2 separate regions of the Homo sapiens genome follow, and region 2 is linked to region 1. Evidence: fine-mapped expression QTL. A gene starts in region 1. The other region holds a variant in brackets. All regions are shown on one strand. Distances are from middle to middle. Region 1 holds the start of TATDN1 (TatD DNase domain containing 1). Region 2 holds the start of LOC105375740 (a long non-coding RNA gene).

The links. PIP is the estimated chance that this variant, and not a neighbour inherited with it, causes the effect. A credible set is the group of variants that fine-mapping cannot tell apart.
Region 2: its variant is the best candidate, but not a certain one, in a credible set for the expression of TATDN1 in whole blood (INTERVAL, PIP 0.84).

The regions. Positions count from the first base shown.
Region 1 is chr8:124,532,876-124,546,121 of GRCh38, reverse strand. It overlaps TATDN1 (TatD DNase domain containing 1), which reads left to right and starts at 7,037. Exons shown (of 12, transcript NM_032026.4): 1 at 7,037-7,097. The coding sequence starts at 7,076. NDUFB9 (NADH:ubiquinone oxidoreductase subunit B9) reads right to left here and starts at 6,999. Exons shown (of 4, transcript NM_005005.3): 1 at 6,835-6,999; 2 at 2,843-3,035. The coding sequence starts at 6,935. RefSeq lists an enhancer at 7,107-7,176.
Region 2 is chr8:124,565,385-124,576,759 of GRCh38, reverse strand. MTSS1 (MTSS I-BAR domain containing 1) reads left to right here. Exons shown (of 14, transcript NM_014751.6): 7 at 8,224-8,381; 8 at 9,582-9,689; 9 at 11,001-11,098. LOC105375740 (a long non-coding RNA gene) reads right to left here and starts at 7,877. Exons shown (of 2, transcript XR_928608.3): 1 at 7,846-7,877. The variant C/T (reference allele first, on the strand shown) is at 7,835.

The DNA.
Region 1 (13,246 bases):
GCCTGTAATCCCAGCACTTTGGGAAGCTGAGGCAGGCGGATCACCTGAGGTCAGGAGTTCGAGACCAGCCTGACCAACATGGAGAAACGCTGTCTCTACTAAAAATACAAAACTAGCCAGGCATAGTGGTACATGCCTGTAATCCCAGCTACTTGGGAGACTGAGGTAGGAGAATCGCTTGAACCTGGGAGGTGGAGGTTGCGGTGAGCCGAGATTGTGCCATTGCACTCCAGCCTGGGCAAAACTCTGTCCCCCTCCACCAAAAAAAAGACATAATTTAAAAATACATTATTGGTTGGGTGAGGTGGCTCCTGCCTTTAGTCCCAGCCCTTTGAAGGCTGAGGCAGGGAGATTCTATGAGGGTAGGAGTTCCAGACCAGCCTGGACAACATAGCAAGATTCCATCTCTACAAAAAATAAAATAAATTAGCTAGGTGTGGTGTTGTGCCTCTGTTTTCTTAGCTACTTGGTTGGCTAGGACAGGAGGATTGCTTGAGCCCAGGGGATCCAGGCTGCAGTGAGCTATGATCATGCTATTGCACTCCAGCCTGGGCAACAGAGGGAGACCATCTCCCAAACAAAAACAAAAGAAATACGTTATTGATAAAAACTGCCAACAATCATCTGAGCCATCAGAAAACCAATCTTTTTACTGGTGGAGAGTATTATATCAATGTTGATGGCTGGTGACTAATCAGGGTGATGATTGCCAAAGGCTGGAGTGGCTTTGGCAATTTCCTAAAATAACGAGGTTTGCGACATCAACTGACTCTTCCTTACACCAAACACTTCTATAGCATGTGATGCCATTTGATAGCATTTTACCCACAGAAGAACTTCTTGCAAAATTGGAGTCAATCCTCTCAAACCCTGCTACTGCTTAATCAACTAAGTTGATGTGCTATGCGAAGTCCTTTGTTATCATCAATGTTCACAAAAACTTCACCAGGAGACTCCATCTCAAGAAACCACTTTCGTATTCATCCATAAGAAGCAACTCTTCATCTGCTCAAGATTTATCATGAGATTACAGCAATTCAGTCATATTCTCAGGATCAGCTTCTATTCTGGCTCTCTTGCTATTTCCACAACTTCTGCAGTTACTTCTTCTGCTGAAGTCTTGAGCCCTTCAAAATCACCCACAAGGGTTGGAATCAACTTCTTCCAACCCCGTTAAAGCTGATATTTTGATCTCTTCCCATGAATCATAAATATCCTCAATGGCATTTAGAATGGTGAATTCTTTCCAGAAAATTTTACTTTGCCCAAATCCATCAGAGGAATCACTATCTATGGCAACTATAACTATGCAAAATATATTTCTTAAATAATAAAACTTGCAAGTGGAAATTACTCCTTGATCCATGGGCTGCAGAATGGATGTTGTGTTAGCAGACATGGTAGCAGGTCTCAACAATGGGCTTAAAAGATTCAGTAAACCATGTTGTATACAGATTTGCTGTAATTCAGGCTTTGTTATTCCATTTCTAGGGCACAGGCAGAGTAGGTTTAGCATAATTCTTAAGGGCCTCAGGATTTTCAGAATGGCAAATGAACAATGGCTTCAACTTAAAACCACCAACTGCATTAGTCCCTAACAAGAGAGTCAGCCTATCCTTGAAGTTTTGAAGCCAAGCATTGATTTCTCTCAAGGTATGAAAGTTCTACATGGTATCTTATTCCAAAAAAAGGCTACTTCATCTCCACTGAAAATCTGTTGTTAAGTATAGCCACCTTCATCAACTATCTTAGCCAGATTTTGTGTAATAATTTGCTGCAGCTTTTCCATCAGCACTTGTTGCTTCACCTTGCACATCTGTGTTACAGAGATGGCTTTTTTCCTTAAACCTCATGGACCAACCTCTATTAGCTTCCAACTTTTTTTCTGCAGCTTCCTCATCTCTCTCAGCCTTCATAGAAATGAAGAGTTAAAGACTTGCTTTGGATTAGGCTTTGGCTTAAGGGAATGTCGTGGCTGGTTTGATCTTTTGTCCCAACCACTAAAACTTTCTCCATATCAGCAATAAGACAGTTTCACTTATCATTTGTGTGTTTAGTGGAGCAGCACTTTTAATTTCCTTAAAAAAACCTTTAATTTCCTTTGCATTCACAACTTGGCTAACCAGCGGAAAAGGCCTTGCTTTCTACCCACCTTGGCTTTCAACATGCCTTCCTCACTAAGCTTAATCATTTCTAGCTTTTGATTTAAAGGAAGAGACGTGTAACGGATTTAAAGTGAGAGACATGTAACTCTTCCTTTCACTTGAACACTTAGAGGCTATGGTATGGTCGTTAATTGTCCTAATTTCACTGTTGCTGCGTCTTAGGGAATAGGGAACCCTGAGGAGAGGGATAGAGGCGGAGGAACTATTGGTCGGTGAAACAGTCAGCACACGCACATTTATCGATTAAGTCTGCTGTCTTATGTGGGCATGGTTTTTTTGTGCCCCAAAACAATGACAATAGTAACATCAAAGGTGACTGATCACAGTTCACCACAACTGTGTGTAGATAGAGTAATAATAAAAAAAAGTTTGAAATATTGCAAGAATTGCCAAACTGAGAAACAGAGACAGGGAGTGAGCACATGCTGTTGGAAAAATGGTGCCCACAGACTTGCTCAGCACGGGGTTGCCACAAACTTTCAATCTGTGAAAATACAATATCTGCCAAGCACAATAAAACAAAATGCAATAAAATGAGGTAGGCCTGCATCTGACAACTGTCAGGAAATAAGTCTCCTAGCTACCCCTTGAAGGGCAAGTGATTTCTGAGGCTGAGGTGTGGGACTGAAGAAACAAAGTCTATTTCTCAGAAGGCAGTCATCATAATTCTCACCTACCTTGTAGCAATCGTATCTCTCATAGGAGGTGCCCCCAGGAGAGTCAGGGAAGATGTATGGCTGTGGATGCTGACGGTACCAGAATTCTTCCTCGGCCTCCTTCAGCAGCTGGGTGGCCTTCGCCATATCCTTTTCATTCTTATGTTCTTCAAACCGGGCTCTCATCAAACAAGCAAAGTATCGGTATTTGTCTCTTAAACCAAAATGATTTTGAAGATTAGAAATGTTACCTACTCACGTGGTCAGTGTTGCTGTCTGACAGGAGGCTGCACTTCTGATACCTTCTGGATGGGCAGTGGACCTACCCCAACCCTCCCAATGGAGCAGCCGTATCATCATGGCTGCTTCCTCTACAGCCCACCAAACAGCAGCAGCAAAAAAATACTGTATTAAATATATACCCTAACCATTTTTCTCCTCTTACATCCAACAATGGAATGAGGATTTAAACAAAAAAAAAAAAAAAAAAAAAGAAAAGAGCATTCGCAAGAGAAAAGCTATAACCTCTGCAGGATCATTCAACATTCATTGAATGACAACTTCCATTTCCTTCTATCTTGTGCTAGTCACTATGCTAAATTCTGGAGATACAAAGATGAATAAGAAAGGTGTTACTTGGCAGAAACAGTATTGCTTAGCTCATACAGAGCTAGGTTTGTATCCTGACTCTGACACTAGCTGCATAAACTTAGGCAAGTTAAAGTCAAGTTCTAAAGAAACTGGGCAAAGATCAGTTAGGAGGTTTTGACAATAATCTAGGACACAGCTGACGAGGGCCTGAAAGTACGGAGCTGTGATGGTGACAGGAGACAGGGGAGACATTGAGACTTCCAAGTTATGAGAATAGGCTCTCCAGTCAGACTGTATGGGCCTGAATCTTAGCTCTGCCACTACTAGCTGTGTAACTTGGGGTAAGTTACTGTCTTCTGGTCAGGTGCGGTGGCTCACACCTGTAATCCCAGCACGTTGGGAGGCCAAGGCGTGTGGATCACCTGAGGTCTGGAGTTCAAGACAAGCCTGATCAACATGGAGAAACCCCGTCTCTACTAAAAATACAAAAATGAGGCCGGGCATGGTGGCTCACGCCTGTAATCCCAGCACTTTGGGAGGCCAAGGCAGGGGGATCATCTGAGGTGAGGAGTTCTACACCAGCCTGGCCAACATGGTGAAATCCCGTCTCAGCTAAAAATACAAAAACTAGCCGGGCGTGGTGGCAGGCACCTGTAATCCCAGCTACTCTGGGGGCCAAGGCAGGAGAATAGCTTGAACCCGGGAGGCAGAGGTTGCAGTGAGTCGAGATTGTGCCATTTGCACTCCAGCCTGGGGGACAAGAGCGAGACTTCATCTCAAAAAAAAACAACAACAACAACAACAAAAAGGCCAGGCACGGTGGCTCACGCCTGTAATCCCAGCACTTTGGGAGGCTGAGGTGGAGGTCACCTGAGGTCAGGAGTTCAAGACCAGCCTGGCCAACATGGCAAAACCCCGTCTCTACTAAAAATACAAAAATTAGCCAGGCGTGGTGGCGCATGCCTGTAATCCCAGCTACTCGGGAGACTGAGGCAGGAGAATTGCTTGAACCCGGGAGACGGAACTTGCGGTGAGCCAAGATCGCGCCACTGCACTCCAGCCTGGGCAACATAAGCGAAACTCCGTCTAACAAAAAAACAAACAAAAAAAGTCTTCTAGGCCACGGGTTCCTCCTCTGTAAAACAGTGGCAATAACAGTGTGTATATCTTAAGGTTGTCATAAACAGTCAATAAGATAAACACACTTTAAAAAGTGCCTGGTACATCCCAAGTGTTAAATAATGTCAGTTACTAATATCATACTGGAAAGAGAATTTATAAAAACCAGTGTCTAATTATACATGGTGTATGAGTATGTGTGTTATTGGCAAAGGAATAAGGAGCAAATACTTGAGAACAATTCTGAGACTTAAAGCTCAGTAACTGAATTACTAATAATACCATTAGCGGAGGCAGGGAATTTGGGAAAAGAGTCAGAATGGGGAGTGACAGGAAAACAAGTTTGATTTCAAAGAATTTAGATAAATGGAGATTGAGAGAACGGTTGGTGATCTTTTCAATTTTTTTTTTATTATTATTTTTTGAGACAAAGTTTCACTCTTGTCGCCCAGGCTGGAGTGCAATGGGGCTATCTCGGCTCACTGCAGCCTCTGCCTCCCAGGTTCAAGCGGTTCTTCTGCCTCAGCCTCATGAGTAGCTGGGATTACAGGCACCCACCACCACGCCTGGCTAATTTTTGTATTTTTAGTAGAGACGCGGTTTCACATGTAGGCCAGGCTGTTGAACTCCTGGCCTCAGGTGATCCACTCACCTCAGCCTCCCAAAGTACTGGGATTATAGGCGTGAGCCATCATGCCCAGCCAACAGTCGTGATCTAACAAGCAATTCGAACTACAGCTCTAGAGACAAATGAGCGCAGGTGGTGACAGCACTAAATGAGGCTGCCCGAGTACATACAACAACACAGTATGCCTAGGATGGAACCACAGAGAACAGCACAATGAGGGCAAATGGAGGAAGAAATTAAGGCAAGGATTGAGAAAGAATGTCAGATCTAAAAAATGCTGAGCCATAACTGTCATAGTAGCTAGTTTATATCATTTTCCTCTAGAACTATGGACTTTAGTATTCCCAGCTATAGTTCAGTATTGCTTGAATTCTTTTTTTCATGTTTAACTTTTTTTGACACATAATTATTGTACCTATTTATGGGGTACATGTGATATTTTAATACATCCATATAATGTATAATGATCAAATCAGGGTAATTTGGATATTCATCACCTCAAACATTTACCATTTGTGTTGGGATACCTGAATCCCTGATGGCTCAACTTCCTTCATCATCGATTTGTTTACATGTCCATTTTCCCCACTAATCCGTGAGCTGCTGCTGCTCAAAAATGGATTTACTAACATTTATATATTTAGCATAGAGCATAGAATCTGAATTGCAAATTCTGTCAAATCAATAAATAAATAAGGAAAACTCAAGGAAGAAACTAACAATCCCATCACATTGTACTTGGCCATCTTCCTGCCAAATCAAGAGAAGTATGTCAGTGATTTTCTAATAGTCACATATATGCAATCTGGGCTTCGAGGGTACCCTCTGTAATTCTTCCAGGCCTACTCCATTTTCCATAGAGTTTTTTTCCCAGAAGGCCTTCTTATAAAACTACGTTTGGAGAGTCGTAAGACTGGAGTGGAGGCGAGGCACTCACACATCTTGGGTTGTTAGCCCACCCTGCAATGAATTTAGGTGATTAAAATCTACACATTTTAACACTATGTTCTCAGACTAGTCTCAGACGGATAGAGGTCGAAAGAGAATTATGTAAGAGGTGAAAAAGATGTAAAGGTAATGAAAAGGACTAGATGAAGCTAAAAAGAGAAAAGCTAATGGGAGGGGTGGGAGAATGATGATGCTTTGGAGAAAGACCTAAATTTTAACCCTGGCTCAGACACTTAGAAACTCTATCACCTTGCGCAAGTTACCAGCTGTGCTCATCTTCTTATCTGTAAAATAAGCTTAAGATAATTCCTAACTCCTAGAGTTTTGCAGACTGAAGAAAATAATGCATAGTTTATTGCTGTTAATATTGGAAAGGAGAAGATCGTGAAGAAAACGATTGAGCGAGCGCTGGACCCATGACAATTACAATTTTAGGCACTTTCCTTTATTTCACTTAATTTTCCTGCGACCCTCTGCGCTGGTCGTGCGTCCGTTTTACTAAACAAAAAGCTGACGCCCAGACCCGACAAGCAACTCTACAAGGTCTCCCGGCCATAAGTGGCGAAGCCTGGATTTGAACCCGGGTCTACCATAGGATTCTGTGAAGCGAGAGGCCACCTTCCAATTCCGTTCCCGAAGTCCTTGAACCTCCAGGTACCCAGGGGCCTCTCCACCTCCATGGGGCCCCGAGGGTCACCTCCCCGAGTCCTGGGTCCCCATCCCTTACCTCTGGACGCACCACGACTCGAGGTGGCGTAGCGCCCGCTTATAAAGCCGCAACACCTTTTGCTGATGGGTCAGGTAGGGTCCCGACGCCAAGAACGCCATTACGGCGCTGACCTTCCCCGGCCGCGCGGAGAGCCGGGAAACTGCACGCCTGCTGCGGGTGACTGAGCGGGGCCAGCCGGAAGGGCGGAGTTGCCGGCGGCCACTTCCGCTTCCGCTGGGGAGGTCCTCCATGCGCAGTCATGAGTCGCTTCAAGTTTATCGGTAAGAGGAGCGTTTTCCACGCCCTTGGGTCTTTCTGACTTGTCCCGGGCGTCGGTCACCAAGGTCACAGGACCCAGGAATTGCGCCCTCCGGCATTGTAAGGGTTGAAAGGGCCGCTCAGTGGAGGAGGGCGCGGGGAGGTTTCTGGGTGCTGGTAATGCTCTGGTTCTTGATCTAGGTTCTGGATTCACGAGGGTGTATTTATTTGTAAAAATTAACAAGCCGTACAGTTATGATTTTTGTGCTGTTTTCAACATCTGTAATGTATTCAGTTTTTTAAGAAGAAAACTCCAAAAAGGCCAATCACTATGTTTCCATTCATCCCACGTGCACCTCCCGGCCCTTCCCCTCTGCCTTGGCGGAGAGGCTGACCGCTTCTGGGGACCAATTCACTCAAGCATTCATTCGTTCATATCATAGTTAGTGAGCGCCTCAAGTGGGCCTGGCACTGGCCTAGGAACACAGGGCACAAAGCTCCCAGTTGTACTGTCATCACCATCTGGTGGAGAAACTAGAAAACACAAGTAATGGGGAGAAAAACAAACTGTACTTGGCAAGTACAATGATCCAGTCGGCATCAGTAGAACGAGAGGGAGAATGCTGCGGGATTTAAATGGGCATGATCCTCGTTTTGTGGGGTTTCCAGCTACCTGAAGGTGGGAAATGACAGTGATCACACCTCTGCTTTAGCAAGGTAATCCTGATAGCTATTATGTAGGTTTTGTGGGAAATAGGGAGAGGTAGGGAAGCATTTCAAGAGCTTAAACTAGGGTAATGGAAAAGAGAGAGAAATGGAAGAGATGTGTGCAGCATTTAGCAGCTGAGTGTTCATGGCCGGTAGTAGAGAGTGAACAAAGATGACTCAGGGTTTGGAAAAGTACTTAAATATGAAATGGAAGCATGACTAGTTTGGCGGTGAAGAGAGGTACCCAGGTCCATTTGGATTAGGTTAAGTTTGAGATAATTATAGGACATCCAGGTAGAGATATCTGGGCAATTGGGAATGTGGTCTGGCAATCAAGAGATTAGGATTATACATTTAGATCTGAGAGTTATTTAAGCAGTATTTTTTTTTTTCAAAGACGTTGTGCTAAGTCCTGTGGAACTGTAAAATCTAGTGGTGCAGTTTTCAGACTGGAGACCTAAGACCTATGTACTGTACAGTCAAAAGCAAATGCAGGGGAGAATATGTTAAGTGCCAGGAAAAAGGTTTTGAAATTGCTGTGGGAAAGCCTGGAGTAGGGGTTTGGGGAGGGGTTGTCAAATAAGACATTGCCGTGTCTTAGCCTTTCCATCCTAACCTTTGATATAATTGATGAGGGAGATGGAATAAAGAGCCATGAAGTACTCCGTAAAGAAAGGCCACATAACTTTTTAAAAGTGTGTTTATGTTATACAACCAAATTCCTGCCTCAAGTTAATGTCTTAAATCCATCCTCCATGTAGACTCCATTTTGGTGTATCTAAAAATCAAATCAGCTAAATGTTTCTTTTGCTTCAAATCTTTCATTTACGCTCCTCAGGATAGCCTAAATGCTTACACACCATACAAAGCCCTTCTGTGGTCCAGTCCTGCCCACTTTTCTAGCCCATCCCTGGGCTGCTCTATAAACACTTGTGCATGCTGTTTGTTACCTCTGACAAGGTTTTAGAGTGGCAGTTTGGGGCCAAAATATTCCTCTGCCTACCAACTACCCTGTTGCCTGTCTGCCTACTCACTCCTTAAAACTTATACCACATTATTTATAATTAAATATGAGTATGCCTTTCCCACTAGATCAAACTCTTAAGGCAGATACTGGTATGGTATTTATATTTTTTTCCTAGGGGCGTAGTACAATGACTGTTTGGGAAAGTATGAATGAGTGGCTTTAGTGCTAAGGTGATAAGAAAATTAGTAAAGGGATTAGCATCAGATAAAATAAGCAAGAAAAGACTTCTTAAAGAAGGTGACTTTATTGGAATAAATAATTGAAATAAATTTTTTTCTGTATGGTTTCCTTTAGCCCCACTCTCCTAAAGTAACCATATTAAAAGTTTGAAGTATAGCCTTCCCTAATTTTTTAATAGATTGTTATACAGATTCATAAAAATACAACATATCAAGGTTTTTTTTTTTCCTTTTGAAACAGAAATGAGATCATATTATGCATTCTATCCTTGGTATATGACTTACTCTGATATTTAATCTTTCAGTTTGTGTCATTTAAAAAATTCTGCCCATGAATCGCTAGACTAATTTCTTAGCCTAATAATGAGTTCTGAACAATATTTTGAAAAACATCATATTAAATCCCTGGAACAAGCTTCACATGGGACAATTGCATGAAAAATTGAACCCATTTTATGAAAATTACCTTAGATTTTGGTTTAAGACAGCTGACCATTGTAATTCTTTCTACATTTCTCTCTTTTCTACTTGCATAACAAGTGGCTGCCCCTTAGAACTATACCCCAACAGTGGGGGTTTTTGTTTGTTTTGAGACAGGGTCTTGCTCTGTCACCTAGGCTGGAGTACAGTGGCTTAGATCATGGCTCCAGCATTGACCTCCTAGGCTCAAGTGATCTTCCTGCCTCATCCTCCCAAGTAGCTGAGACTAGAGGTGCTCACCACCATACCAGGCTAATTTTTTTTTGTAGACCACTGTGTCCTGCTATGTTGCTCAGGCTGGTCTTGAATTGCTGGCCTTAAGCAGTCCTTCCACCTCCGCCTCCCAAAGTTCTGGGATTACACGTGGAGCCACTGGCCAGCATGAGAATTTCTTTAGCCCAGCTTATACTCTCTTTTCTGTCTCCACAAGTGGAATTCTATTCCCTGGGTGTTATTTACAAACTCTTCCACTCTCAAAAATACTTCTACCTGTAACTATTATATGCCAGAATCTCTACTGCATTGATCTTAGACTACATAGTACACCAAAAAATGAGAAATATCTGTGCAAGAAGAAAATGCAAAATACAAACAACAGTGAAAATAAAAACATCATATTCCATTCCTGATATAGTTTAGATATTTGTCCCCTCCAAATCTCATGTTAAAATTTGCTCTCCAATGTTGAGGTGGTCCAGTGGGAGGTGTTTGGGTCACTTCCCAACATCCATCTCATGGGGGTGGATCCCTCATGAAAGGCTTGATGGCCTCCCTGTGGTAATGAGTTCACACTGGCTCCCCTTCCCTTTCCACCAGGATTGGAAGCTTACTGAGATCCTCCCAAAAGCAGATGTTGGTGTCATGCATCTTGTACAACCTGCAGAACCATGAGCCAAATACACCTCTTTTCTTTATAAATCACCCAGTCTCAGGTATTCCTTTATAGCAATGCAAAAGCAGATTAATACAGTTCCTCCAAATCACACATAACACCACCATGTCTATCTTTCCAGATCTTCTGTAGGCATACCAAACAAAATAAGATCATACTGAGGCTACTCTTTTGTGCTCTGCTTTTTTCAATCACAGTCTCCACCTTTCCATTTCAGGAAATGTTCATCTTAACTAGTACCAAAATCATACTCAAATTTTTCCTGTTGTTCCAAAAATGTCCCTTGGTGGTCATGTCCAAAATGGTATCCCATTTAGAGCCACACATTTGGTTGTTCCTTAAATTTTTGAATCAAGTGCAGAGGTTTGCAAACTTTTTCCTTAAAGGGCCATATAGTAAATATTTTAGACTTTGAGGGCCACGTGATCTCTATTGCAGCTATTCAACTCTGCCCTTTTGTGTACTGTGATGTAATAGTAAATACGTGTGTGTTCTCTGCTCCCATTTCTTTGTGCACAACTCCTGAAACCCTTGGAATCTCCTAAGTGCTAAGTGTCTTTTTGTATGCTGCTAAGATGACTGATGGCTGGGGGCTCCTGGATAGCCTCAGGATGGGGGTTTGCCTAGGAAAACCCATCATGTGATTAGAGAGTTGGAAGTTTCAGTCCCTCCCACCCACTCCCACTTCTGGGGAAGGGGAGAGAAACTGAAGGTTGAGTTGTTCACTAATGGCCAGTGATTTAATCAATCATACCTACATGGTGAAGCCTCTATAAAAACCCATACATGTCTCTATGTGTCTCTTCCACCTGGCCGTTTTTGAATGGCATCTTTTTACAATGAATGGGTAATAAGTAAAGTGCTTTCCTGAGTTCCGTGAGCTGCTCTAGCAAATGATCAAACCTGAGAAGGGGGTTGTGGGAACCTCTTATTGTAGCCAAGTTAGACAAGTTGTGGGTAACCTGGGAACCTACTGCTTGTAATTGGTATCTGAAATGGGGAGAGTCTTGTGGGACTGAGCCCTTGACCTCTGCGGTCTGATGTTATATCCAGGTAGATAGTGTGAGAATTGAGTTAAATTATAGGTCACCCAGCTGGTGTCAGAGAATTGGTTGTTGGGAGAGGAAACCCCACACATACCTGACGTCAGAAGTGAATCCTCACGCCTGTAATCCAAGCACTTTGGGAGGCCAAGGTGGGAGGACTGCTTGAGCCCGGGAGTTCAAGACCAGCCTGGGCAACAAAGTGAGACCCCATCTCTACTTAAAACAAACAAACAAAAAATTCAGAGTATTGTGAGTATGAGAATACTGTAGGAGAAAGCAGTTTGCATTTTTTCCTATCTCACACCTTGTCATTCAAAAGCAGGTGATAGACAGTATGTAAATAGGTGTGGCTATGTTCCAGTAAAACTTACGGTCACTGAAACTTGAAGTTCTTATAATTTTGATGTGTCACAAAATATTCTTTTGATTTTCTTCAACTATTTAAAAATGTAAAGTCATTCTTAGCTTAGAGGCAAACAAAAGTAGGCAGTGGCTTGTGGGCCTTAGTTTACCAATCCCTTGCTCTAGCGCATTTCTTTTTTTTTTTTTTTTTTTTTTTTTTTTTTTTTTGAGACGGAGTCTCGCTCTGTTGCCCAGGCTGGAGTGTAGTGGTGCAGTCTGGGCTCACTGCAAGCTCCGCCTCCCAGGTTCACGCCATTCTCCTGCCTCAGCCTCCCGAGTAGCTGGGACTACAGGCGCCCACTACCACGCCCGGCTAATTTTTTGTATTTTTAGTAGAGACGGGGTTTCACTGTGTTAGCCAGGATGGTCTCGATCTCCTGACCTCGTGATCCTCCTGCCTCAGCCTCCCAAAGTGCTGGGATTATAGGCGTGAGCCATCGCGCCCTGCCACACATTTCTTTTTTTAATGTCACTGACTTACCAAAGCAGCTGTGCTGGTTGTGCCTGTGAAATAAAAATAAAATTCTAAGCCCCCTAAACTGGCTGAACAGAACCCCCCTCGACCAAGTAGACCCCAGAAAAACATGAAAAACTAAGATTCCCAAACATGACAAGATGAGGGGTTGGTCCTGGTCTCCTTCCTTACTAACCAATACCAGACTTTTTTCCTACAAGTTGAACAGAAACCAGCCCTGGAAAAACAAAGATTGGAAGACTTGCTCCTCTGCTGACTTCAGCCAACTGCCTGACATTGGGACCAGCTCCCCTCCTTTTTTGCAGTTTCACCATGACAGCTGACCAGTTTCACAAGGCATTCCTTCCTGTACTGAGGGCAGTTGCCACCCCCTCAGGCCTCATCAAGGCTACCAAAAAATTACTCCTGGGATCCCCTCTCGTTGTATATGTTTCTCATTCAATTTAGGCCCTTTGCACCTGTCCCCTCACTCAGCATCTTTAAGCCAGTTGATTGACCTCCTATGAGATACTTTTCTCCTCTTCTAACCTAACCATAATTTACTGTAACCTCCTTAATGTAGCTACCATTTTGCGTTTTTTTTTTTTGAGACAGAGTCTCACTCTGTCGCCCAGGCTGTAGTGCAGTGGCGCCATCTTGGCTCACTGCAAGCTCCACCTCCCGGATTCACACCATTCTCCTGCCTCAGCCTCCTGAGTAGCTGGGACTACAGGCGCCTGCCACCACGCCCGGCTAATGTTTTGTATTTTTAGTAGAGACGGGGTTTTACCGTGTTAGCCAGGACGGTCTCGATCTCCTGACCTCGTCATCTGCCCACCTCGGCCTCCTAAAGTGCTGGGATTACAGGCATGAGCCACTACACCTGGCCCCGTTTTGCCTTTAATAAGAGATTAACGCACCCAAAGACTGTGTTGTCTTTACAGACACTTTTCTCTCACCTCATATAGACTTAAGGGAGACCCC
Region 2 (11,375 bases), 32 kb before region 1:
TGGGGAAGCAGTTGCTGCCTCTCTTGAGTTGCAACCCATCAGCCATTTATGGTTTTTGTAGGACTAATTGATTCACGCCTGGTGCCATTCTTCCATTCATAAACATCCTTGACTGCTGCAGATGAGTCCTGCAAAACACTCCAGCCTCCATTTATTAGTTTGTTCTTTCATTCATTCATTCAGGAAAGGGGTATGACAAGCCTCCTCTGTGCTAGACTCTGTTAGCTGCTAAGGAGGTAAAAGTAGCATCTACACTCAAGCTCTCCCCAGCACGAAGAATGCATTTATGTTCCAACATCAATTCTCTGACTGCAGCTGCTGTCCTATTCAGTTATGACACACCTAGTGTTAGTGTAGACCCCACAAGCTAAGAGTTCAGTCCCATGAGACTGCCCCAAATTCAGTCACCAGCCACAAGTGGGGTCCTCAGATTCCTCACACTTCTGCCCAGCCGACCACAAATTTGGGGTTTTCTATGACCCCCTCGCCCATCAAGTTTAATAATTCTCTAGAAGGACTTGCAGAACACAGGAAAGCACCATATTTACAATGACTGGCTTCTTATAAAGAATGCAGATTGTAGCCTTGTTTACTACATTAAAGGACTCTGCTGAAGCCCTTGAAGCCTTTTTGGCTTCTAGATAATTCCACCGTGACAGTGTGTATTTGGATTAGACTGTGGCTTAACTGGACATCCAGTTAGCAAGTGGTGGTTGTTGTCTAGGTGACAGATGATGGTGGCCTGGGCTCAGGGAAGTGACCACAGAGATAGAGAGGAAGACAGGTGGATTCAAGAGCTACTTAGGAGAAATGCAAATGAAAGAAGGAAGAGTTGAAGGCAATGGTAAATTTCTGGATCCGGTAGTCAGGTTGGCAGATGGTGGAGTATTTCTTTAACCACCAAGGAAGAAGCATTTTGGAGCCGTGAGGATGCTCTGTTGGAGACACTCTGGATGGTGAGCTGCAGGTTGGCCTGGGACGTTTTCTAGTTGTTCTCTGAAATGTCTCTTTTTATCCTTTGCTTTGATAAACAACTGATTGCCCAGGGACCAGTGAAGAATCTTGATGATAAAACTCCTACTTGTAGTGAAAGAATCATGGGATCTTTTGCATTTTCTTACATCAAAAACGACCTTGAACTGAAAGCTCTCTTTAAAAAACAAACAAACAAACAACAACAACAAAAAACCCACCCTACCCTGCATACTATCACCTGCTAAACTACCCAGTGTCAGAAGGACAACTTCAGAGATGCTGTGGTGGCAGCTGATAGTGCCTGACATTTAGTGAGTGCTCAGCACGTGCCGGGCGTTGTTCTGAATGCTTCATGTGGATTAGTTCATTTCCCCTTCCAGCAGCCCTGTGAGCTCAATACTGTTATTATTTACATCCCACAGGTAAAGGGAAACTGGGGCACAGTAGGTTGAAAAATAACGGAAATTGAGTTTGTTTGAAAAATTTTAAGGCTAAAAGCCTTCAGTCTTATCTAATCACATCTATCTTTTGATTTCGGGTTGGATTTTTCTTTTGGGAATCAGTCAAAACCCACTGTGGGTTATTAAGAGTAGAAGATGACTTATAAAGGGATAATGAGGATAGCCTCCTTTTGCTGGGAAGACAGAATTTTTCATTCCAAATTCTAATCTCCAGTGTCACCTTGCATGTCCATTTCTGGATTTATATTTTGTATTTTAGTATTTATATCCCATGTTTCATTTGACTCTGGGATACAAGCAATTGTCAGATGCACCATTATTTTCCAGACCACTAAGAAAGGAAAAAAAAAACCTACCGATTAAACTGTGACACACCATTGATTGTAAGACACACCCTGATTGGTGAGGTGTAAAAATGGGGGAAAGTGGCTCTCTTAGAATGAAATATCTTAGAATGAATTTGTGTGAGTCAGGGGCAGGTGAAAGTCATTTTGCAGGATTCTAATGGCTTCTCCATACACCTCTCTCCGAAGAAAGAAAGGACTTGGGGTGTTTTGCTGACTCCTGGCAGCATTCTTGGCCCAATGTATTCTGGGTTTGCTCTTCCCCGTTGGAGAGCCCTTTGCCAGAGAACAGCCACTGGCTTGTTGAGCCAGGAAGCTTACCATGTGAGTGCAGCTTGTGTCTGAAGAGGCTGGGCCAGTACAGATAATACGAATCACATTTCACTGGCTTTTTGATCGGCTGTTTAGCTCCTGGCAGCTTGTTCCCAGCATTCATGTTTGCTGTGAGTAGGAAACACAAAGAACCTCGTCTTCAGAACGAGAAAGACTTGGGGCTGGATTCTAGCTGTGCCCGTGGCTGGCTTAGTGCTCATGATTGTGGCCCTGTGCAGACCACTTTGCCTCCCTCAGTCTCAGTTTCCCCATCTATCAAAACGGATATTCATTCCTGCCTTGAATGTGTTATGTAATAATGATTAAGGAAAATAAAATGCAAGTGTTGAAGTTGATACAGGATCTTTATTTCATTCCAGAAAACTCTGTAAAGTTTCCTCATTTAAAAATTCCTTCCTTCTGTGGCCGGGTGTGGTGGCTCACACTGTGATCCCAGCAGTTTGGGAGGCCGAGGCAGGCAGATCACTTAAGGTCAGGAGTTCGAGACCAGCCTGGCCAACATAGTAAAACCCTGTCTCTACAAAAAATACAAAAATTAGTCGGACATACTGTCTTGAACCCAGGAGGCAGAGGTTTCAGTGAGCTGAGATTGTGCCGCTGCACTCCAGCCTAGGCAACAGAGCGAGACTCTGTCTCAAAAAAAAAAATTCCTTCCTTCTTTAGGGGTGCTGCCTTGGCCCATGACATGGTGCATTCACAATGCTTTGCCCCAGGAACATTTTCTGCAAAGAGAATCATCATGATATCCCCTGGGGTGGGGGGATAAGGGGCTCCTGGCTGCTGTTCATCAGAATTCCCCAGCGTGAATACACAAGACCTGGAAACTAGCACCAGGAAAAAAACAAAACTCAAGACTGAAGATGCCTAAGATATTACAGAAGAAAGCCGAAAGCAATTCTTTGCTCAAGAATTTTGTCTGGGAAGCCCATCGAAGGCACCCCCTCCCTCCTCCTCTTGGCTGCTTGATGGTCCTGGAATTGGGTGGTTCTGAAGTATTAGGCCATTTAAGGGAATGATGGTTGAGGCCAGTGAGCAAACTTGGTCACGTTGTATCAATGCTTGATTCATTTACAAATATTTGAACACCTGCCGCCTTCCAGGCAAGTGTGCTGACTGAGGAGATACAGTACTGAGCAAAAGCATTCATGGGTTCTGCCCCCGTGGGACTGCCCCCTGACTAGGGGAGACTGACGTCAATCAAATAACTAGAGAAATAAAGATGAAATTCAAACCGGGGGTAGTGCTGTGAATAAGTATAAGGGATTTCAGAGATCAAGTAAGAGAAGCCTAATCTGGGGAGAAAGTTCACAGCAGGATTCCCTGAAGGATCGAGAATTAAGCGAGACCTGTAGGATAAAAGGTGTTAGGAATGTAGCAGAGGGACAGCAGAGTGAAGATGGGAAGGGGCCCAGGCCCTGGAGGATGAGAGGGAGAGGAGAGAGGGAGAGAATGGCCCACAAAGGCTGAGGCTATGAGGTAGACAGGCAATGACCTTTCATGCCTTGCAGGGCAGGCCATGTTAAGGATATTGTTCTTTTCTTGCGAGCAATGGGAGCTGTTGAAAAGCAGTGAGAATATTTGCATTTTGAAAGTAATCCACAGCCGGGTGTGGTGGCTCATGCCTGTAATCCCAGCACTTTGGGAGGCCGAGGCAGGTGGATCACTTGAGGTCAGGGGTTCAAGACCAGCCTGGCCAACATGGTGAAATCCTGTCTCTACTAAAAATACAAAAATTAGCTGGGCATGGTGGTACATGCCTGTAATCCCAGCTACTTGGGTGGCTAAGGCAAGAGAATCTCTTGAACCTGGCAGGCGGAGGTTGCAGTGAGCTGAGATCACGCCACTGCACTCCATCCAGCCTGGGCAACAGAGCGAGACTCTGTCTCAAAAAAAAAAAAAAAAAGAAAAGAAAAGAAAGAAAGTAGCCCAGGGCTGCTCTGGGCGAGCTAGTCCAAGTGCAGTCTGGGGTGAGACATTAGGGGCTGTTGGCATCTGTTCAGGTGAGAGATCGTGATGGCCCAGTGAGGGTAGAGGTAGCAGAGGTGAGACGAGGATGGAGTCAAGTCCGTGGGAGCTGGAATAGCCAGGACCAGCGCTCAAGGAGTCAGTGGTGACTCTCCTAACACTGCCGATGGGAGTGAAGAGAATGGGCTTTTGTATATATTAAATCAGTACCAACACAACTCTCTGAATTTGTGGACCTCAAAAGATCACTCTATCTTAAAACCAGTATATCCAACTGGGACATGAAATAATTTCTTTCACAGTTTTTTTTTATAAATATAATTACATGTTGTATTAGTGAATTTAATAAATAAACATTGTAGTTTTAGCTTATCATCTATCCTGAATGGAAATGTCTTGACTATAATTATAGCAATCTTTACAGAGTATACTTATTTTAGAATGCTACAATTTGAGAGTCCTTTAATTATAATACACATTTAAAATAACTTTGCTATAATCATAGGATAACTTAAATTTATATTTTCCAAATTAGATAACACTGGGTTCAGTGGCCTTTTTTTCTTTCCTATGTAGATACAGTTTTTAAAGTCAGCATTATTAATTATGGATAGACATGTGCCTTATAACTTGTGAAAGGAAGTAAAGATACATTTTTCCAATTTCTGACAATCACAGGCTGTTATTTTTTAATTTTATTTTATCTATTTATTTATTTTAGATGGAGTCTTGCTCTGTCGCCCAGGCTGGAGTGCAGTGGCATGATCTCAGCTCACTGCAACCTCCCCCTCCCAGGTTCAAGCAATTCTTCTGCCTCAGCCTCCCCAGTGGCTGGGACTACAGGCGTGTGCCACCACACCCAGCTAATTTTTGTACTTTTAGTAGAGACGGGGTTTCACCATATTGGCCAGGCTGGTCTTGAACTCCTGACCTCATGATCCGCCCGCCGCGGCCTCCCAAAGTGCTGGGATTAGAAGCATGAGCCACCGTTCCCGGCCTCATAGGCTGTTATTTTTTTAAATTGCTACCATAATCAAAGCCCACCGAGCAAGTTTGGTCAAACACAATGTGTCTCAATCTGGTGTCTCCCGACTTCTGTTCACCATCCTACACGAGAGTTGAGAACATTCTGAGGTGGTCTGCAGCCCTCTGTGTTTTGTTATTAGAACATCATAGAATAGATCGAGAGACTAGAAGTAGCCCTCTAGACCAGCCCTGAGTCATGTGACCCAACAAGGCCCACAATTGGCCATGCTGTTTGGCTGCTTGCAGAGGAAAAGCAAGGGTTTACAGCTTTCCAGAGCTTCCCTGCTGGTGGACTCGTATCATACACACATTAAGTATATCTGGATTAATTTTGCACTAGCCAGCATTTTAAAATAGAAGAGAAAACTCACAGTTTTCATAGTGCTGGTGGCACCCAGCCTTCCCTCTGTAAGCCGTTGGCCACAGGTGGTGGGTCTCTGTGAACAGAGCACCTGCCCTGAGGCAGATTCCAGGAGAGAATGGGAGAATGTTTTTACAGGTTTCTTGTCTACTAAAAACACATGAAACCAGTGGCTCAGGTGGCCAGATTAATGTATGGTGATGATTACTCCTACATCCTTGAGGAAGAAATTGAAGGCATGGTAAAGAATTATTCTGAGGGGTGGAGGTAGTGACTACATGGAAGAATGGGTGAGTGGGTCACCTTGAAAATATGCTGAAACACCCAGGCGCTGTGGCTCATGTCTGTAATCCCAGCACTTTGGGAGGCTGAGGTGGGAGGATCACTTGAGGCCAGGAGTTCAAGACCGTCTGGCCAATAAAGCAAGACCCAATCTTTATAAAAAAAAATTGAAAAACTAGCTGGGCATGGTGGTGCACGCTGGTAGTCCCAGCTGCTTAAGAGGCTGAGGCTGCAATGAGCTATGATCATTCCACTGCACTCCAGCCTGAGTGACAGAGCAAGACTCTGTCTCCAAAAAGGAGAAAATTATGCAGAGACTTCTCAAGCAGCAAATTTCTTATATATAGTAGTTCCCCCTTCTCCTCAGGGGATATGTTCCAAGACCCCCCGTGGATGCCTAAAACTGCAGATAGTACCCGAACCTTACATATACTGTGGTTTTTCCCATGCATACATGTCTATGGTAAAGTTTAATACATAATTTAGGCACAGTAAGAGATTAACAACAATAATAATAGAACAATTATAACAATATACTGTAATAAAAGTCATGCGAATGTAGTCTCTTTCTCTCTTTCAAAATACCGTATTTTACCACACCATGGGTAGCTGAAACTTTGGAAAGCAAAACCACAGAGGAGGGGCCAGTGTAGTATAATCGTTGGGTAGCACCCCTCCGTGGACTTAGATACATACTATCTACACATTTGTACTCACTTGACTGATGAGAGTTATATACACAAAGCTGTCCATACTGTATTTACTGGCCATCTAAGGCATTTTCAAGGGTGATCTTTGACTATAATTTTCTCATAATGTGCTAACTTAGAACTTATTCCCTGTCTGAGAAGTGACTTTTCCTTACTAAAATCTGACTACCTTTTCTATTGGGATGTGCTTTAAGCCTGATTGCCTCTTGCTCCAAATTAAACTTTCTCCTCTGCTTATGAGTGAAAAATACAGAATATGTTCCTACATCCAAGGCAATTTTCCCTGACCCTTTCTTTCTTCAGACCAAATGGTTCATTGCATTTAATGTTCTCTACATCACTAAGAGGGATAGATGGAAACTGCAGGGCCCTTCCTGCGAGGCGGTGGGGCAGAGAATAGGTTCAGTGTTAAGGGAATTAGGCAGTGTGGCTCAACCCTGCCTCTGTACCATTCTTTCTGTGACCTTAGGTGAGTCCCTTGACTTCTCTAGGACTTGGTCTCCATTGAAACATGAGCAGATTGGCCCAATTGGATAACCCCTTCCAGCTCTAACATTTTGTGTTGAAACTATTAAACAGACATTTATCAAGCACCTGCTGTATACACACATGACATTGTACTAGGGGCTGTGCTGGGAAAGACCAAAATCCTGCCCTGAAGAAGTTTAGGAAGTATCTCTCTGGTTTGAGTGATAGGTAAGGCCCCTGCATAGGCAGCCCAAGGTGGAAGCTCATGAGCTGGTGTCCCCTGCTGTCACCCTGCTGTCCCCACCTACAGATCAGATTTGTAGTAGCTGCTCCTTTGGACACAGTGCCTCTTGGTCCATGTTTATCTTTTAGGGCAGCAGGCTTCTTTTGCAAGAGGCCATGGTCTGGGGGCCATACTCTGTGTCACACTACTCTGCCATTGTAGGGAGAACTGGTACAGGCAATATGGTAAATAAATGGATTTGGCTGTGTTCTAATAAAACTTTATTTGCAAAGATGGTTTGCTGACCATGTGTTAGTCATTCAAAAGACTAACACCCTGTCTTAAACTCCAGAAGTGGTTGCCTGCACCTAACTGGGGTCTGTGGACCTGGCCAGATAATTCCTAAACATGGGCCAGGCTCCGCATAGACCCCACTTTCAGTTTTTCATCATCAGAGACCTGTCTGGAGGTCTTGTTATTACTGGGCTTGTTCTACAGCAAGAGCATTCAAGACTCTCCACTAGAGAGTCAAAGGAACTGCCAAGGATTCCCATGGGCCCCCAGAGCCAGGAGAGCGGATGCTTGCCACCTTTGTCTTTAGGAGCAGATCCTTCTATCCAGACAGAGGCTCTTTGATTGAGATTGACCCAACAAAGCCAGCCCGTGCCCGTTTTTGGAAACACCCA[C/T]AGGCTCTTACCTTGTTTCCACATCTCTTAGCCTCTTCAGAATGTTCTGCAAGGAAAGAATGCTGTCTGGCTCTGTGTTCCAGGGTTGTGTTGGCAGAAGAGTTGGTGGGGGTTGTGCAGTGTGAGAAGGCAAGTCATGAAGAGTTGCCCCAGGACATTTTCCTTGTCAGGAATAAGCCAGGCTAAATGTGCCCTTTGGGCATTGAAAATTGGAAATGGCTGGTCCTAGAAAAACAGCTGCCTTAAATCCTTTTGGGGCATGAATAAATACTTTTTTTACATCCTGGAAAATTGTGGTTTTGACTCCAGCAAGGACCCCAGGGAGGAGGGGCACTTGTTCCAGAAGCTGGTATTTCAGCAAGCCGTGCTTGGGTCTCTGTTTTTTGCAGGGAGAGGTGATATCCAGCCTCAGTTGGACAGTGCTCTCCAAGATGTCAATGATAAGTATCTCTTATTGGAAGAAACAGAAAAGCAGGCTGTCCGGAAGGCTTTGATTGAAGAACGTGGCCGATTCTGTACCTTCATCTCTATGCTGCGGCCAGTGATTGTAAGTTAATGGAAAACTCCAGAAGGTTTAAACTGCTGGTGTAGAGGTGGCTTCCTTCTAATTTTATCCATCCACTGTTGAGTCATGGAGAATCTACTGTCAGGAATCATGATGGTGGTATCTCCTGTACAGACCAGCGATTCAGTGCAAGTTGATGGCCATGTAGCTCACTCCTCATTCACTGTTCTAGTACCACTTGTTCCCCGTTACTTTGTCTCACCAAGTCAAGAAGGCCCAGCAGGGTGGTTCTCAAAGTGAGGTCCCCAGGTCAGCAGCATCACGTGGGAACTGGCTAGAAATGCAAGTTCTTGGGCCCAACCCAGACCCACCAAGTCCAAACCTCTGGGGGTGGGGACCCAGTCGTCTGTGTTTTAAAGGAGCACTCCAGGTGGTTTTGAGACTCACTGTTGTAGCCGAGTACTAAGGGGTGACCATGAGATGAATATCCAAGAGCCTCAATGAATCAATTTAGACTTAATTTTTAAGGAAATCATTTGCATGCCGTAATTGAGAACTTGCACTGCAGGCGTTCTGGAAGCTGATTCGAAGGTACCAGCTCATTTCCCTTAGCCCTAGCAAAATGTCTGAATTTGAGTTGTTCCCCTGAGCACAGAACTTTTCCATGGATCGTTCTAGCCCGGCCCGTGGTCCCAACTTGGCACTTCGATAAAGCACATGGGATGTTTCTTCCATGGTCCCCAGCTCCTGTCTTACTTGTCTTTTACTAAGTTGCTGGAAAAGCACAAGAAAGAAGGGGAAAAGTTAGCTTCTGTTGAACACACAGGCACTGTCACAAAGATCTGGACCAAAATATATCCAAGTCGTGTCATCCATTGAAGCTAAGCAACTTCAGAAAAGGGCCACAGTATGAAGAGGGCTGTGCTGCAGGATCCCGTGGGAACACACAGTCAGACCATCTGAGCAGGCCTGGCAGTCCCCCAGGCCCTGGGAGGGAGGCCTGTGTGTTCCCCACTGTCCCCTGTGCACAGGTCACTCCTCCATTATGGCAGATTTCTTTTTCCATCTCATTTCCCAAAAGAAAAGGCATGTAGTGCCTTCAGCAAAGATTTGCCAGTCCCAACAGTGCCTTTTCTGAAAAACTGAAAGGGTTATACAGAGACCCTAATGAAAACAATTGGACTAGAGCGATGAAGGGAATCACTCATGATAATAACATTTCATGAATGACTTTTCCTTCAGGAAGAAGAAATCTCAATGCTAGGGGAAATAACCCACCTTCAGACCATCTCGGAAGATCTAAAAAGCCTGACCATGGACCCTCACAAACTGCCCTCCTCAAGTGAACAGGTAGGCTTCAGGGGTTAAGCACTTACAGGATCAAACCAAAGAGGTAAAAGCTCAAGGCCCTGAGTGTTCCTGTGGCATGTGTCACGTCTTAAATTGTAGTCATATTCACCACGTCCTTCATGATGTAATATATGAAATCACCACAGCGAGCTGTTACATAGAACCTATTGTGTGTCAGGCACTGTCCCAAGCTCTTTACATAGCCTGACTTCCTCCATTCATCTTCATGATTATGCTTGTTTTATAGAGAATGATGCAGAGGCACTGAGAGATGGAGTCACTTAGCCAGGTTCAGCTAGCTAGCAGGTAGTGGAACTGATATTTGAACCAAGTTGGTCAGGTTCCAGATCCCATGCACTTAATTGCTGTGTTCATCTGCCCTCTAGAAGTCAACCCTCCTAAGAACACGTCGCTGGTGTGTTTTGATTGACACTGTCAACCATTCTCCATTTCTCCCATTCTAATTGAGCAATGCATGGAGAGCTCTCTCATCTTATGAAAAAGATGACATTTTTATGCTTTATTCATTTAATTCACATCACACGCACACTATGGGAAGAGACATATTTGGGGGAACTGATGAATCACATGCTGGCTTTTGTGCTTGGTAACAATCTTTTCGTCTCCTTGGAGAGCTGGCTCAGAGGGCAAATTTGGGAGCTCATGTTTTCTATTCTATCAAATTATATTTATTAGACCAGAGCATGCATGCATTCACTTGACAAATAAACATTTACTGAGTGCTTCTTATGTGAATGAAAGGTGGACCTTATACTCATGTGGTCCTTTGTCAAGCAACGGAGACAGATATAGAAATAATGGTGAAAGAATTGGCTTGTTCTTGATTCTGTCAGGCTTTAAAATTTCTAGTGCTGGTCAAATAGGGCAGAAATGACCACTGAATATCAAGTGGTTAAAATGCGCTACCAACAAGTCTGGGAACCATGATTAACTTTATGGCATTACAAGAGGAAAATCCTGTAAATTCTAGCCTTGGGTATAAATGGCTGTTATAAATTATTAATTGGTCACTGTATTTCTCCCTCTCTCGACTGATATTTCATGATTTTCCTTTTCCCTTCCTTTCCTTCTCCCTATTAATTATAGTTTTACTTTCTCAGTAAAAGGATTATGATATTGATGGATTTGGTACTGTGGCTCTTCAATTTAAAAAAAATTTTTTTAACATGTTTTGCTTTCATTCCCACCCCCACGATGGCAGCGTTTTGATGCTTTGGTGGATGTTAAGCTTTGATGGCTAACGCTTCCCCTCTCAGCACCTCATTCACCCAGCTGGCTCTGTCCCCTTAGGTGATTCTGGACTTGAAAGGTTCTGATTACAGCTGGTCGTATCAGACGCCACCCTCTTCCCCCAGCACCACCATGTCCAGAAAGTCCAGTGTCTGCAGGTGAGTGAAGCCGGGGTCCACTCTTGCTTTCAGGACGGGTCATTTTTCTTTATGCTAATGTGAGCAATGGAGCCAGTCCTTATCTCTTAGAATGGCTCATTCTCAAACAGGAAATGGGATGATGAGCTGAAAGAATGGTAATAATTTTGGTCTTGCTCTTTAGTCTCTGGATTAATTTTGGATCAGAAAGAAAACCCCATTAGCCCTTGACTTGTGGATGTAGCTTATTCTCTCTCACTTGTATGTTGTAGGGATTTTCCTATTCTATGAGATCACA